2 linked regions of the Homo sapiens genome follow. The protein of the gene in region 1 binds, or shares a complex with, the protein of each later gene. Links are inferred from orthologs where the notes say so. Each region holds a gene or a part of one and is shown in the gene's direction. Other genes may lie near its edges. The genes, in order: PEX5L and HCN2.

Region 1 (7,891 bases):
TGCAAGTGACCAAAAATCCAGTAAACCAGAAAAGAGATGGCACTAGCTGAAATAAAGATTACTTTAGACTAGCTTTTAAGTGTGGTTTATTTAGTGGCTCAAATTTTGTCTCCTGGAGCCTGCCTGGATTATTATTCCCCCAGGTTGGTTTTCTTTTCAGAGTTGGTGTGCTGGATTCTGGCAGTTCCAAGCTAACATCAGTAGAACATCCAGTCCAGAGGAAGAATCAATCTGCTCCCGAGTAGTCCTGGAGCTGAGTTCATTTCCCTGATTGACTGACGTGGGTAATATGCCCATCTCCAACTGTGACCAATGGGGACGGAATGCACTGGTTGGCTCAGCCTGGGTGCTATGTTGCAACCCCAAAGCCTGGTAGTAAAATGTTTCCTACCACACAAGTGGACCAGAGTGAGGAAGAGATGGTTATTCAAAGCAAAGAGCCTTGAGAAAAGAGGCTTCCTGCCACTAGAAGAGGATGTTGCTCTGGGCAGCAAACGATATTCCATGACTGTGAATAAAAAGCTGAAGTTTTGGGACATTAGTGGGCAATGGAAAGCCACTAAAGATTTCTGACCTGAGCAGCATTGTGATTAATGCTGACCTTTATAAAATTAATCTGGCTGCGATGTATATGACAGGTTGATGTAGGAGATGAACGGAGGTGATAAAACTAGCTTTAAGTGATAAGAGGTTTAGGGAATCTGGGCTAGGATGGCAGTGGCAACAGTAGAAAGGAGTAGTCAAAAGCAAGAAATATTTTTGTTCACAAATGTTTTCTCACCAGGAATAAGAAACTCTAGAAAGTACACTTAATATTAAAAGCAATATTGGATCACTGAAAAAACATTGTCCTAAAGAGTAAACAAATATAGTGTAATTTCTTAAATTGGTTTAATAGGAGGCCCAGCTCTGAAGCATCCAGCTTGTTTGTTCATTTGGAAGAACATTGCTGCCATCTCCTCGTCATCAGAGTCCACATACTCTTATTATTCATAATTCTTCCTGGCAGCCTGGGGTTCCCAAATTTTTTCCAGATCAAATGCCCTGAAACACCAGCTAATCTCATTCTATGTGTCGAAGAGACAAAAAGGGTAAGTGGGCAAACTTTAACAAAATGTTCCTCCTTCTGATTGAACAACAAATACCAATTAGTCATTTTAATTTTGGTCTACAATTATTTTGACTTTTGTTCTCTCCTGCACCATCTTTCAGCACCAGAGTTTGAATTCTACAGATTATGAAAGAATGATTGAATCATCAAAAGACTCTTATCTCTGATTTTTAAGTCCACAAGAACACTAACCTCATCATTTTTACTAAGTTTTTTCAAAGATTTAATAAATCCTGAATTTTCAATACCCATTTGAAATGCAGGAGGATTCGCTTACTAATAAGCAAAATTAAATTTTGTCAATACAAAATAGATTCTACTGCTACCTCTCAATTATTTAATTGTATTACAGTGATTAAAATTGCAGTGGTACTAAGCACATTTCTTGCTGTAAGAAAGCTGAATGTGCTATGATTTTATGCCAAGTCCACTGACCACTCAAAATACAGTGAGATTATTTTATAAATGGAGTGCAATATGCATTCTTCTTCTCTAGTGGTACTGAGGTTGCTCATGTGTTATCACTGCAAAAGGCAAGAGCTAGCTTTGCCACATATTTACATGAATAAATAAACCTTCTAGGCCACAGTGCTGGTCAAATTTTATGGTGCATACAAGCACCTGGGGATCTTGTTGAAACGCATATTCTAATTCAGTAGGTCAGAAATGGCACCCAAGAGTCTGCATTTCTTACAAGCTCCCAGGACATGCTGATGTTGCTGGTCCACACACCACGTTTTGAGTAACAAGGGTCTTCAAATTTAATTACAAAATAAATCTTTTGTAAAATATTTTTCTGGACCTAGCTTATTAGACATGCATTGTTTCTGAGGAAAATAAAGATAATTCAAATCTCATTCCTAGTCTAAGAAATAGTCTAGGAAAGTGAAAGTTAAGCTTAACCAATCAGAAACCACAAACTAACCTCTAACTATGGACTTTCCATTAGAATGATCCAAATAAATCCAGTATTCCTCTTTAACCAAATAATTTCTTTGCTCTGCTTCCACATTTACCCTATAAAATCTTTCCCTTTAACGACTTCCGACAGAGTCCCCAACTGCTTTCGGTCTGCTGCTGCCTGATGCATGAATGGCTATTTGCTCAAAAAACCCTTTAAAATTTTAATGTGCCTTAGTTTATCTTCTAACAGAAGGAATAAGTGTGAAGAGGAATTCTTCACAAAGGAAAGCTTTCACTCCTGAGATTTTGAGAATGTAGGCAGTAACGAAATCAGTGACTCAGGTTTAAGAAGAGAATATATTGAGTTCTAGCTTCAACACTAGGCAGTTGCCATTCTGATCCAAATGCTTTTATGGTTGTTGGCTCCTTGAACCTGCCGTTAGATAATAACAAGCATATAATGGATTGGAAAACTTTGACCCTATTGTTACTTCACAGATTTCTAGTACTTTTAAATCAAAGCACTATACTTTTCCCAGTTTTTATATAACATGATAGTATTATATGATAATTAGTACCATTTTAAAATCTGCAGTACTTGAGGTCTCAGAAAATCAGTCCTCATCTTTTCTGAACTGGGAAAAAAAAGTCTGTTTGCATATTCATATATCATGGTTGGTAATTTACAACTTCCTTTGCATACATTCAGTCCTCAGCAGCTCTGTGCAGCACACTAGGTAGATATTTGTCTTATTTCAAAATTGAGGAAATAGAGAGTTGGTACACTTGCCCAAGAGAGCATTGAGGTAGTGAGATGGAACTAGCACCTCTTGTTGCTGACTCCAAGTCCTGTGCTTTGTCCTATAAAGAACAATAAAATAAGAACTGGATGACATTTTACAGTTTACAGTGCTTATGAACATATCTCTATTTTCAGGGTAAAAAAAATAAGTTTTTTATACAGAGTTTAGACATGAAAAAACTGATGTCCAAAGTAGTAAAAGGAAATTGTCCAAGGGTAACTACTAGTGGAATCTAATAGGAATCCATGTCTCCTGCTTACAGGTCTTAGTCCTTTTGTGTTTGTTTGGTTGGTTGTTTTAGGACCTCAGATGCATTGAATTGGTTCATTTCACATCCTTTTGTTCATTTCACATTCTCCTCATTAGTCCATACATGGTTCTATTTTATTTAGTTACACAGTAATTTTTAATAGGATATTAGGTGTCCTATGAATCACTACCCGGCATAGAAGATAAGACATTAACATCTAAACTTCAAGTGAAATGCTTCCCCATCTATTTCCCTGCCTCCCTTCACCCAGGGTCACCAACACTCTGAACACTATATTCATTGTTCCACTGCTTTCCTTTTTATATTGTTGTATATGAATATATGAATACACATTGACATTTCTAGGGATTTTTTAAACTTTATAAAAAGCATATTATGCTATATGCAATATTTTGGGGATATCATGCTGTACATAATATGAGGGGCCTGTAGAATTGGAGATGTTTTTACCAACAAAATTAGGTAATCACAGTATACACCACCCCGTGGTGTGTGTGTATATATGAACATTTATTGTGTAGACACATCAAACTACCCAGTCTCAACTTGAGACATATTTAAATGCACTCTTCATATATGTGTGTATGTGTGTGTAAGTGTATAGTAGTAAAGGTCTATTCATTCAGCAAATATTTATTGTGTGCCTGCCATGTGTCAGGAAGTACTAAATACCTTACTGTGCACACACGTGCAAAACCAAGTGCAACACTCCACCCCCCTAAAAAAAAGTCCCTGATCTCATGGAAATAACATTGTACAGAGGGAGAGACAGACAGTACATAAAATAAATATGGAAAATATAAAGGATGTTAGGTGATGTTACGTGCTAGGGAAAAAAATAAAACATGCCAGATCCTCAGGGACTAGGGTTTGCCGTTTTAAATAGAATGCTCGGCGATGAACTGGGGATGAGGGGAGCGGGGAGTCTTTATTTAACGGGTGATACGGACGTAACTTTCGAGAGCTGAATCAGAACCGAAGTAAACTCTTCGGCAACCCCTGCACTCAGCCTATAATGTCTGTAGGATAACAGGCTCAGCCGCGGTGGATGGCCCCCGGAGAGACGATGCATGTCTTCCCGCCTTTCTTCCGGCCGGCCATCCTCTCCGCTAGAATCGCCCTGCCCGCCGACGCCGCACCTGAACGCCGCGCTGCTGCGGGCGTTGTACACCAGCGCGACCACCGCCTGCCGGCACCTCGCCTTGCCGCCGCGCGCGCGCAGCCCCGAGGACGCGCTCGGGGAGCGCGCACCGCCCGGGGCCGCCCTCGGGCCGCTCCCAGGCCCCTGGGAACGCGCGCGCGTGCCCGGTCCCGCGGCCTCTCGGCAGGCACGCGGCTGGGAGAACGGCGCGCGCCCCGCTCGGCAGCTGCGGCGGCGGCTGGTGTAGGCGCTCACGTCAGGGCTGGGAGGAGGGGGTTCGCAGCTCAGAGAGAGAGAGACATGAGGCAACCTGGCAGGAAGCGAGAAAGAGTTCGGCGAAGAAGGAGTGAGTTCTAGAGACGCCCCGCGAGCAGGACCCGCGCCTGCAGGAGAGCCTGGCCGACCCGGCTCCTCGCCTTCTCTGCGCGCTCTCCCGCGTCCGCTTTCAGCACCCCGAGCGGAGAACAGTTCCCGGCAGCCCGCAGCGCTGCCGAGTGGCCGCCGGCCGGCCGAGTACCCGGAGCTCCAGGGGGCTCAGGAGCACCCTCTGAGAACCCGCTGTGCACCCACCTTTTCCCCTCTTTTGGTGGGCAAGTAAGCACGGGGGAAAAGCATCCGGTGGCCTCAGGGAGCCCTGAAGAAACCGAAGCAGAATGTACCAGGGACACATGCAGGTAAGACATTTCTATAGGGCTGGAGAGAATTCTTGGGGGCTAATTTAAGAGCAAGGCGGTTCACCAAGTTTCTGTGGTCAAGTGCTGCCTTCGCACAGCTCAACAAGTGAAGTGATGCAACATGACCGTGACATTTCTGTCCGGTGCTGCCGGGAAAACTAGACCGGTTTCCGAAGGTGGGAGAAGGGGAGGGAAGACCTCAGAACTTCGATTGGGGAAGTTTGTTTTCTGTGCATTCCCTGAGCCTGTTTCTTTAAACAGGATCAAGGAATCGAAACAGAGGAAACCCTAGAGATGACCGTGTTTCCGTTGTAATCCTATTGATGCATCTCAGCATGTATGTCAACTGAAGGGCAAACAATAATAGGAAAGACAAAGCTTTTCCTTTACCATCTGAAAAGGTTGCTTGACTTAGAACACTCTGTCACTTTCGTTTCATTTTTTAAAGTGTTATATTTAAAAAACGATTTATAGTGTATTTTCCCCCTTCACATTATGGGACATTGCCATCTACTCCAATAGTCACAGGATGACTTGGGAGGATGAATTTCAAACACATGTCCAAGGAGCTCTAATGTTTTTCAGGGGAGGTGCTGCCTCCGGTTGTTATTAATATTCATCTGAGCTGAGCCGCTGCTTCTTTCCGATGCAAACACACTCTACTCTCTTGGGCAAGATTACTTTAACCTTGACTCCAGTTCTCATTCATACGGTTGGTTGGTTCTTATAAAGGCAGATATATGCTTTGGGAGAAAAATAAAATACTAACTCAGCTTTCTAAAGTATGAACTGGACTCTTTATCGCACCTAAATGGTTTAGTCATCAGGTTTGATGTTTGGGCTTCCTTTCCATTCCAAAGATGGTCAAATACAATCATTATGTGTGATGCCTTTATCCTGGTGTATAACATTTATGAATACTGAGGATTTTGCTTCTGTGTCTTTTAGAGCAATTGGAAATAGATAAATATGTTGTTATATTTATGACTTAGTACTACCCAGATTTAATTTCCATAACTTAGGGAAATTCTTTTGGACTATAATCCATTTTTAAATAAAACACAATATTTCATCATAGTCTCAATTTTTATAAGAATTCTCAATATACAGTGCCAGAATTCCAAAAGATTTCCCGTATGACTAACATCATCCTGTTTTGAAAATTATTAATGTGATTATATCACATTTGATAGACAAAAAGTAGTGAATGAAGTATATTTTTAAATATTATATATGATCAATGTGATCTGCATGTTTCTTATAAAAGCTACACCAATTGAAAAGTTAAGTAACATAGAAGAATTCAAATAATGACTGCTGAAAAAATTAACAAAGAATTATTACTATAGTTTTATGCTTCATCTTCACCCAAGAATGATACTTACAATTTTATATATTATCTGTTTTTTAAACAGTTTCTTCACAAGGGTAAAACAGGAAGATTTTAATAGAGTCAACCCTCAAAAAATTGTTCATTTACACAAAATTGACAATTGACCACTAAGGGGAAATTAACAAAAACTTTGCACAGTATTGTTTTGTTGCTTAAAAAATATGTTACTGTGAATGAAGAATCGAAGCAACAATATGGTAAATTCATGCACCCAAAAACAATTTTAACTCAATTTTCTCAATATCTCAAAGGAGAATGTTATTGAAACTTGAGTTGCCTGGAACAATGTCTGAGGGTTTAATTTCACTTTGAAAGAATAAACAAAATATAAGACTCTGCATATTCTCCCAACTTAATGTCTTTTGCTTGTGCACTGCTGTAACAGCAAATATGATGACTTGCAGTAAAACTCACAAATCTTTGCTGCCAAGCTTAAATTAAAACATTACTAAATAAAGACTGTAATCAATACATCCACCAAAATTTCAGAGCATAATACTTTTTTCCTACTTACTATTAACCATTAATGTTAAGCATAAAACTTCCGAGGCCTTAGTAGGTACGTTTAGTAGTTATTCAATAGTATGATGATCTGAATGGGCATCTGCTCCCCCCAACAAAAAAATACCTATGACAGATTGATTCATAATATACTTGTTGGCTTACATTTTAAACTCATATCTCTTCCCCCAAAGAATATTATTTAGCCTATGGACAAAATAACGTTTCCTTATCAGAGATACTATCATCTTCCTGTGTGTACCTGACTCTAATCACAGATAAGAAGAAACACATTCCAAACACTCCAAAATGTGTATGATTAAAATCTGAATCCATATTTGGTAAAGTGGACCAGGGATAAGCAGATTTACTAACATTTCTGCCAGCTTTGGAGTTAATTTGAAACATAATGTTACTTGACTGATACCTTAAAACAAGAGTGAAACAGAAATGTTTGCAATCTTTTGCTATGCATTCTAATTCTTCTCTTTTCTGTATCCAAGAGACTTTAAAATAAAGTGCTTTGTAAATTAGCAGTTTGAAGTAGGGGCAGGTGTTCTCAGGAAGACTTAAAAATAGTCTAATTTAAAACTCCTGTGGTGCCTTTGTTTTTGCAACTTAATGATTTTGCAGATAAAGTCTATTAATTCTCATACATATGGCTAATTCATCTGGTTTATGGTAGAATCTGAATTCATTTTAGAAACCGCAGACTTTTAAAAACACACATTTGGTTTGCTCTGCTAGTTCATTAGAAAATAAAAGTTGGCATCTATTACAGATAGAGCATAGAGTAACAGATATTTCTTGGTTTCATAGTAAAAGCCGCAGGTATATTTCTTAGGAGCAGGGTCCTGGAGCTATGTTTTTATCCAGCTGCCTTACCAATTATTTCCAAGGGGAGTTAGTCACCCCAGTAAATGAAGCAAAGGTTGCTTCTTTTGTGACTGTTTTAGATTTACTTATTTTTTTCTTTTGACCAAGGGCACTGATGATGATTGAATATACTTTAGCATCGGTTCTGACAAAACTCTGTTGCTCATTGAGGGCCTATGGTCTTAATTCCACCAATACCTCTGTATGTTCAGGGCTGA
Region 2 (7,950 bases), on another chromosome or scaffold:
CACCCCCTGACCGGAGAGGGACGCGGTGGAGAGGGAGCTGTAGAACGTGCCCACTCCCCTCCGTCCCCTCCAGCATGACCTTCGACAGAGATGGGTGCACCGCAGCGTGGGGGCTGGCAGGTGGAGGCCCACACCAGCCACTCCCTCCCCTGGGCAGCTCCAGCGACCCCCTGGCTGCAGAGGGGCGGTCGGTGGCCTGGGGGGCAGGTGGGCAGATGGCTGATCCCGGGGCTTGGGGGGAAGGCCGGTGGTAGGAGTGAAGCCCTCTCATCCTTCCACCCTCCTTGGGCGTGGTCGCCTGGAGGCCTGGGCAGGCTGTGGCCCCGCTCTGTGCTCTGAGGCATAGAGGGCTCAGAGGCCCCTGTGTGGACCAAGTGCAGCCCCACCCCGGCAGATGAGTGTTGAAGTGGAACTGAGCAGGCAGGGAATGGGGTTAGCGGGGCCTGTCTTCGGGACTAGGGGAGTCACGGCAGTCAGATTTTAAAAAAGGATTTCGATGTTGCCAAGCTGGGTGCACGGGGCCCCTAGGACCCTCCCCAGGCTTGGGACCTGTGCCAGTGTGGAATCAGTGTGGAAAAAGACCCCCAAGAATATCTCAAAAGCTCCCTAAGCAGGCGGCCGGACCCTGCTGTGGAGGGTGTTTTGGGGCAGCCCACAGCAAGCGAAGGGGCCTCTACGTTTGCAGCTGACTCAGGAGCCTGGCCCCAACTGGCTTCGGGCCCAAGGCCTCCTGTGCCTGGCTGGGTGTCTTGGGTCCTCGCTGGGCCCCTCTGCCTCAGTTTCCCCAATTGCACGGTGGGGATGGTATGAGGGAGAAGGATGGGGTCTTTCACAGCCTTGCCAGTGTCTCAGCCTCACGTCTCACACTCTCTTCACCTCCCCTTCCTGCTGAGAGAGTGCTGTGCTCCTTGCCCAGCCTGTGCCCCCCAGGCACGCCCTCACCCCGGTTCTTCCTCGCTGCCCAGCTGTCTCCGCCACGCCCAAGTCCACCCTGCTCCCGTGCTCGGAAGTGGCCTCTTTCACGCCCCACGTCCCAGTCCCAGTATACAGCAGGTGCCACATATTTGCTGAATTTTCTGAGGGGCAGAGCATGGGTCCTGGGCTGACGTGGGTCCAGATTTCGGCTCTCAGGCCTGGGCGGCTGGCCCCTTTGGAAGTGCAGTTGGTGCCAGGGTGCAGCGGCTCACGCCTGAGATCCCAGCACTTTGGGAGGCTGAGGCGGGCGGATCACCTGAGGTCAGGAGTTCGAGAGCAGCCTGGCCAACATGGTGAGATGATCCCGTCTCTACTAAAAATGCAAAAATTAGCTGGGCATCGTGACGAGCGCCTGTAATCCCAGCTACTCGGGAGGCTGAGGCAGGAGAATCACTTGAATCCAGGAGGCAGAGGTTGCAGTGAGCCGAGATCGCGCTGCTGCACTCCAGCCTGGCTGACAGAGTGGGACTTGGTCTCAAAAAAAAAGAAAAGGAAGAAGAAGTGCAGTTGGTCTATTGCTGAAGTCTCTGGGGCTGTGGGTGGCTCTACACCCCGGCCTGACGTCTGAAAGTCCCCAGAGGCATGCTGGGCGCTTCCCTGGGGTGCTGGTGGAAGAGCAAGTTCAAGGACCCAAGTTCAAGGTTTTGGGTTCCAGAGGCTCAAGTTCCCTTCCTTGTAGGTGATCACGGTTGGTGCCTGAATTGGAACAGGCGTGAAAACCAAGAAGGAAGGGGTTTGGCCTTATGCAACCCCCAGGGCTTCGGCAGGGTCTTCTGTGCCTCCCAGAGCAAAATTAGGTCAAAAATAAGTATAGTTCATTCCTACTCCCTTCACCCCAGCCGCCGCTGATTCTAAAGGCCACACAGGTCCACTTGGGAAAGCCTGAGTCGTGCAAAGGAGGGTGTCTCCGCAGGAGAGGGGCAGGGGCTGGAGGTCTCTGCACGAGAAGGGCTGGGGCTGGAGGGTGTCTCCGCAGGAGAGGGGCTGGGGCTGGAGGGGACACGAAGGCCCAGGGAGGGGCGGTCTGAGGAGGTCGCGTTCTCCGAAGCTTGCTGTCATCCACCCTCCCTGCCCCCGGTGTCACCGAGGGGGCTGGGCAGACCTGGCGGGGTGGAGACCTGGGCAGATCCGGGGTTTGTGCCCTGGGAGCTCTGGGGGGCACAGGGCAGGTGTCGGGTGGAGAGAGGCTGGCGGCTTCCTGACTGCCCTCGGTCCAGTTCCAGGGCTAAGTGCCCTGTGGCCGCCCTGCCGTCTCCTGCTGCTGCTGACTTGCAGGTCTGTGTTTCTGAATTGTCTTCAGCTGGGGAGGCCCCGTGTGAGGGGAGACAGACGAGATGCTCCCCAAAGCCAGGATCTGTTATGTCCCCTGGGGTCCCCGAGAGGACTGGTCGGGGAGGAGCTGCTCCAAGACCCCACCAGGACAGGCGGCCCCTGGGCCCCGCCTCAGATGGCTGAGTGGGTCAGCGGGAGATCAGCCTGGGGGTGCAGCTCTGCAAATCCGCAGTGATGAATCCCAGCATTAGGGCGTGGGAATAAACCCCCCATTATCCTGGGGGGATGGCCCCGGGGGCAGGGCGAGGCGAGGGTTTGTCTGGCTCTGGTCACGGCAGGAAGGCCCAGCGTGTGCAGGATGGTGGGGTGTGCATGGACCCATATCCCAGGTGGCGGTGGCCTGCCCTCTGGTCTGCGTGGAGGGGTCAGGGGTCGGGGTGGCCAAGGCCTCCCCGCTCTCTTCAGGGCCTTCCCTATGTTCCCTGCTCGAAAACGGACATCTTTGTCCAGGCACTGTGGCTCATGCCTGTAATGCCAGTACTTTGGGAGGCGGAGGCGGGAGGATCGCTTGAGCCCAGGAGTTCGAGACCAGCCTGGGCAACATAGCAAGACCCCCATCTCTACAAAAAGTTAAAAAATTAGCCAGGCGTGGTGGCGTGCACCTGTAGTCCCAGCTACTCTGGAGGCTGAGGCGGGAGGATCACCTGAGCCCAGGAGGTTGAGGCTGCAGTGAGCTATGATCGTGCCACTGCACTCCGGCCCGGGAAACAGAGTGAGACCCTGTCTCAAAAAAATAAAAAAAACCTAAAAACCCACATATTCAAGTCACCTTCATCAGCCCCCCACTCACTTGGGCCGGGCCCTGCCTCACCCCCCACCCCACGGTTCAGCCTCGCACCCTGTGCGCTGGCCGCCTCTCTCCTGCCAGATGCCTCCCCGTCCCCCTTTCTGGCCTCCCGGCTGTCAGCATGGGCCTCTCCAGACATCGGTCCTTCTTTCCCTGTCACCTCTACCTCCTCCCTGGCTCCAGCCCTCCCCAGTCATGTCCCCTGGTCCCGAGGCCGCCCACCGGCCTTGAAGGGAACCCGGAGCATCAACCTCCGCACCTGCTGCCCCTCTTCAGCCACTGCCCTCCCCTCACCATCTCATCCACCCACACGCCACCTCCTCCAAGGAGCCCTCCCACCTGCCTGGGGCTGACAGGCCCATCCCATGTGTCTGTCTTGGGGCTGGGCCTGTGTGGTCATCGTGTGCCCCGGCGCCCGGCGAGAGTTCGGTGAACATCTGCCCCGTCGGGATCACCCGGGAACCCGAGATCTCCCCCACCCGTAGCAGCTCCCTTTCTTAATCCTGGGCACCTGCCACGGATCTGGCCATGACTCCACAGCTGAGAGTGCCGTCTCCTAATCCCCCGGCCCGAGGCTCTCCCTTAATCACCGACCTCCGGCCCCTAATCCTCTCCCGGATTGTCCCCATCTGTAAATCCTGGACGGCCTCCGGCCTGAGGCTGGGCTCCTGCGGGGAGGGCCTGGCTGCCCTCGCCCGTTCCCCAACCCGGGACTCAGGCTCCAGCAGGGGCTGAAGACCCCCTGGGCAGGCCCTCCCCTGGGATCCAAGGGGCTGAGGGTCCTGGGCCTTCTGTTGCCAGGAGACCTGGTGTCCTCGTGGGGTTTGGGAGCCGGGTCGGCGGCCTCCTCCCCCAAGCTTCATCCAGCCCTGGAGAGACGGGGACCTGCGTCGGCTTTGGGAACTTCAGGGGAAGAACCCTGAGCTCGGGGCAGGAGAATGACATGGTCTGTCTGGGTTCCCATCCCACTGTTTCACTTATGGCTGGAGGAGCCTCAGTTTCCGTGTCAGAGCCGAGAGAGAGGCTGGGCGGCTGTTGGAGGAGGGCTGAGCTCACATCGGTGTCAGGTGCCGGGGGCCCCACTGAAGCCACTCTGGAGTGAGAGGGGGTCCGAGGCTTCTTCCGGTCCCCCAGGTGTGAGAGCTGAGGCCGGAAGGTTTCCCCAGGGACCCAGCCTCATCCCGGCCTCCGGAGCTGGTCTCCCTCCCTGCCTGCGAGGGCCAAGCTGGACAAAGTGGCAGGACCCCCGCGTTTCCGAGGAAGGGGCCCTCGTAGAGGCCTCACTGTTACCTGTCGGGGATGGGTTTTAAATACAGGATTTAATGATGGTCACTGATGTTTCTGTGACAGCTGAGGGGGGCCTGTCCCTGCTCAGCACTGGGGTTGGACAAGGAGGGCACAGGGTGCCCGGGGAGTGCTGGGGCCCGCCTGGGTCCCTATGGTGGCCGGATGGGGAAAGGGCTGCCGGACGCGGCTGCACAGAGTGTGAGGGGGAGTGGGGTTGGGCTTTGGGCCTTCCCCTGACCCCAGGTCCCCTCTCTGGGGTCCTGTCTTCTGGAGCTGCCTCCCCCTCCCCAGGGCGAGAGGCAGGAGAGGGTCTCCCAAGGTCACTCAGTCTAGTGTTGGGCAAGGAGAGGGTTGGGGTGGAGAGGGTTGGGGTGCACCGGCAGAGACAGTGACGCCCTGCAGGGCTCTGGGGTCCCCTCTGCCCCAGGCCTCGGTTTCCCCTTGGTAGGGGACATGCGTGGGCGCCCTTCTTCCTTCTGACCTCTGGCTGGTGACGACGAGGGTTGCGGCCCCAAGCCCTGCTTGGAGGCATTGTGGTTGGAACGGGCAGGCCCAGCCCCACAAGGGACCCTCAGGGTGGCCACCCCACCTGTCCCTTCTCCTAGGCCCCTCTGCTCTGACCCCCGTAATCCCCAGGAATACTGCCCTGCTGGGCAAGATGGGCTGAGGAGTCCTTTCTGGGGACACAGGAGCAGAAGGCTCAAGGGAGGTGGTTTCCAGACAGTGTGGGCCGTGGATAAGAGGACAGTCCTGGGGTCTCATCCTGCAGTCCCACTTCCATCAGAGGGGAGGTGTGGTACCTGCCCCCAGCTCACCCCAAGAATAAAGGGGGAGAATGTCTGTTAATCATCACCTGGAAAGGAGGCCTTCATGTTATATGGCCGTTTAAAACCAGGTACCCCTTGGCGGTTTCTAGGTCCTCCTGGTGGTTTCTAGGTCTCCTTGGCGGTTTCTAGGTCCCCCTTGACAGTTTCTAGGTCTCCTTGGTGGTTTCTAGGTCTTCCTGGTGGTTTGTAGATCTCCTTGGCGGTTTCTAGGTCCTCCTGGTGGTTTCTAGGTCCCCCTTGGTGGTTTCTAGGTCCTCCTCGTGGTTTCTAGGTCTCCTTGGCGGTTTCTAGGTCCCCCTTGACAGTTTCTAGGTCTCCTTGGTGGTTTCTAGGTCTTCCTGGTGGTTTCTAGGTCCTCCTGGTGGTTTCTAGGTCCTCCTGGTGGTTTCTAGGTCCCCCTTGGTGGTTTCTAGGCCCTCCTGGTGGTTTCTAGGTCTCCTTGGCAGTTTCTAGGTCCTCCTGGTGGTTTCTAGGTCTCCTTGGCGGTTTCTAGGTCTCCTTGGCAGTTTCTAGGTCCCCCTTGGTGGTCTCTGGAGCCCCCTGGGAGTTTCTCCTCGCCCCTCGTGGGGGAGGTTTCTAGGCCCTGTGGCCTTCTCAACTGCTCTTTCCTGCTGGTTTTGTCCCAAGACTGGTGCTCGAAGGTGGGAGGCAGGTCTCAATCCAGAGGGTGAGGCTGGGGCTGAGCTCCACGGTGAGCCCCCTCGGGGCTGAGGGGCAGGGGGCCAGCGGCAGGCGGGTGGCATCCCCTCAGCCCACTCGGTGCTGGGGCCCTGGGGGTCTCGTTGCTGAGCAGATGTGTCGGACTGGGGGCCTGAGCCCTCATGTCCTGTCTAGACTCAGGGAAAGGAAGGCCTTAAATTTCTAGTCCTTTTAGTCATTTGATTTCACCCTTCAAGCTTGTGAGGGGACCCCTCCCCACCCCGAGATCAAGTCAGCCTTTTTTTTTTTTGAGACAGAGTCTCACTCTGTCACCCAGGCTGGAGTGCAATGGTGCAGTTTTGGCTCACTGCAGCCTCGACTTCATGGGCTCGAGCAATCCTCCTACCTCAGCCTCCCAAGTAGCTGGGTCCACAGGTGCGCACCACCACGCTGGCTAATTTTTGTATTTTTTGTAGAGACGGGATCTCACTATCTTGCCCAGGCTGGTCCTGAACTCCTGAGCTTCTGTGATCCTTTAGTCTTGGCCTCCCAAGGTGCTGGCATTAGAAGCATGAGCCCCTGCACCCACCCTTCCCTTCTTTTTTGAGACGGAGTCTCGCTCTGTCGCCCAGGCTGGAGTGCGATGGCGCGATCTCGGCTCACTGCAAGCTCCGCCTCCCGGGTTCATGCCGTTCTCCTGCCTCAGCCTCCCGAGTAGCTGGGCCTACAGGCGCCCGCCACCTCACACAAAAAAATAATACATTTTTGTATTTTTAGTAGAGACGGGGTTTCACCGTGTTGGCCAGGATGGTCTCGATCTCTTGACCTTGTAATCTGCCCGCCTCAGCCTCCTTAAGCCCTGGAATTACAGGCGTGAGCCACCGTGCCCAGCCTGAGTCAGCCCTTCTCTAGGTTTTATCCCCAGCCTGGGTGGTTCTTGGGGGGTGTCCCGAAGGCTCAGCCCCTCCCCATCCCGAGGCGGTGGATGCTTGGAAGAAGAGACTGAGGTTCTCAGGGGCTGCAGGAACTTGTCCAAGGTCACTGTGCCAGCAGGCGGGTGCCAGCCCAGGTCTGGCTGATGCCACCACGATGTGAGTCGCTGGGTCCCTTCCAGCGTTTGGCTCTTGCAGACCGAGCTGCTGTGAACATTTTGGTACAAATGGCTTTTTAATTTTTTTCTCTTCCTTTTGGACCGTTTCCTCGGGATCATTTCCCCGAAGTGGAGCGTCTGGGTCACCCCGCAGACGTGGTGTTAACAGCTTTTCCCTCGAGGAGCCGTCCAGAAGCAAGGAGCCGACTTTCGGCGGCTCCTGAAACAAAGGTCCCGGCGGCCACGCCAGCGATGAGCTCCCAGGTTTTTCTTTATTGGTGTTAACTTTGGGGAGTCCCTCCAGTCCCTCAGCATCTCCTCCGAAAGGATGTGGGGACCCCGGCCATGATAGGGAGGGGCTGGGCCTGGGGTGGGGATAAGGCCTCAAGAATTGGCCGGGCGCGGTGGCTCACGCCTGTAATCCCAGCACTTTAGGAGGCCAAGGCGGGCGGATCACGAGGTCAGGAGTTCGAGACCATCCTGGCTAACATGGTGAAACCCCGTCTCTACTAAAAATACAAAAAAAAAAAAAAATTATCTGGGCGTGGTGGCGGGCGCCTATAGTCCCAGCTACTCGGGAGGGTGAGGCAAGAGAATGGTGTGAACCCTGGAGGCGGAGCTTGCAGTGAGCCGAGATTGTGCCATCGCACTCCAGCCTGGGCGACAGAGTGAGACTCTGTCTCAAAAAAGAAAACCTCAAGAACTAAGAAGGCTGAGTTGGTACAGGGATGGGAAGGGGTCCCGTGTGTGTGTGTGTGTGTGTGTGTGTGTGTGTGTGTGTGTGTGTGTGTGTCAGAGGGTCTCATGTTACCCAGGCTGGTCTTGAACTCCTGGGCTCAAGCGATCCTCCTACCTCAGCCTCCCAAAATGTTGGAATTATAGGCATGAGCCAGTGTGTTTGGCCTAGCCCCCAGTGTTAATGGCAAAATCCTATGAATCTTTGTGCTGGAAATTCAAGACCCTCCCTTGTCTGAGTCAGGCACACGCAGGCCATGTGGGCTCAGACCCCAGTC

The links.
Region 2: the proteins of PEX5L (region 1) and HCN2 are in contact, whole or in part, in a crystal structure (PDB 4EQF), measured with the Mus musculus proteins. The link is inferred for Homo sapiens from one-to-one orthologs. Residues at the interface, in NP_001156988.1 of Mus musculus: Glu315, Glu317, Val343, Asn347, His426, Asn453, Arg454, Ala457, Thr458, Ala460, Asn461, Tyr472, Arg484, Tyr487, Asn488, Ile491, Ile494, Ile537; in NP_032252.1 of Mus musculus: Leu859, Ser860, Ser861, Asn862, Leu863.

What each region holds. Positions count from the first base shown.
Region 1 is NC_000003.12:180,033,591-180,041,481, reverse strand, and holds the start of PEX5L (PEX5-related protein), read left to right. Parts: upstream 1-4,544; 5' UTR 4,545-4,882; coding exon 4,883-4,903; intron 4,904-7,891. UniProt on the Homo sapiens protein: Accessory subunit of hyperpolarization-activated cyclic nucleotide-gated (HCN) channels, regulating their cell-surface expression and cyclic nucleotide dependence.
Region 2 is NC_000019.10:592,168-600,117, forward strand, and holds part of HCN2 (potassium/sodium hyperpolarization-activated cyclic nucleotide-gated channel 2), read left to right. Parts: intron 1-7,950. UniProt on the Homo sapiens protein: Hyperpolarization-activated ion channel that is permeable to sodium and potassium ions. Displays lower selectivity for K(+) over Na(+) ions. Contributes to the native pacemaker currents in heart (If) and in neurons (Ih).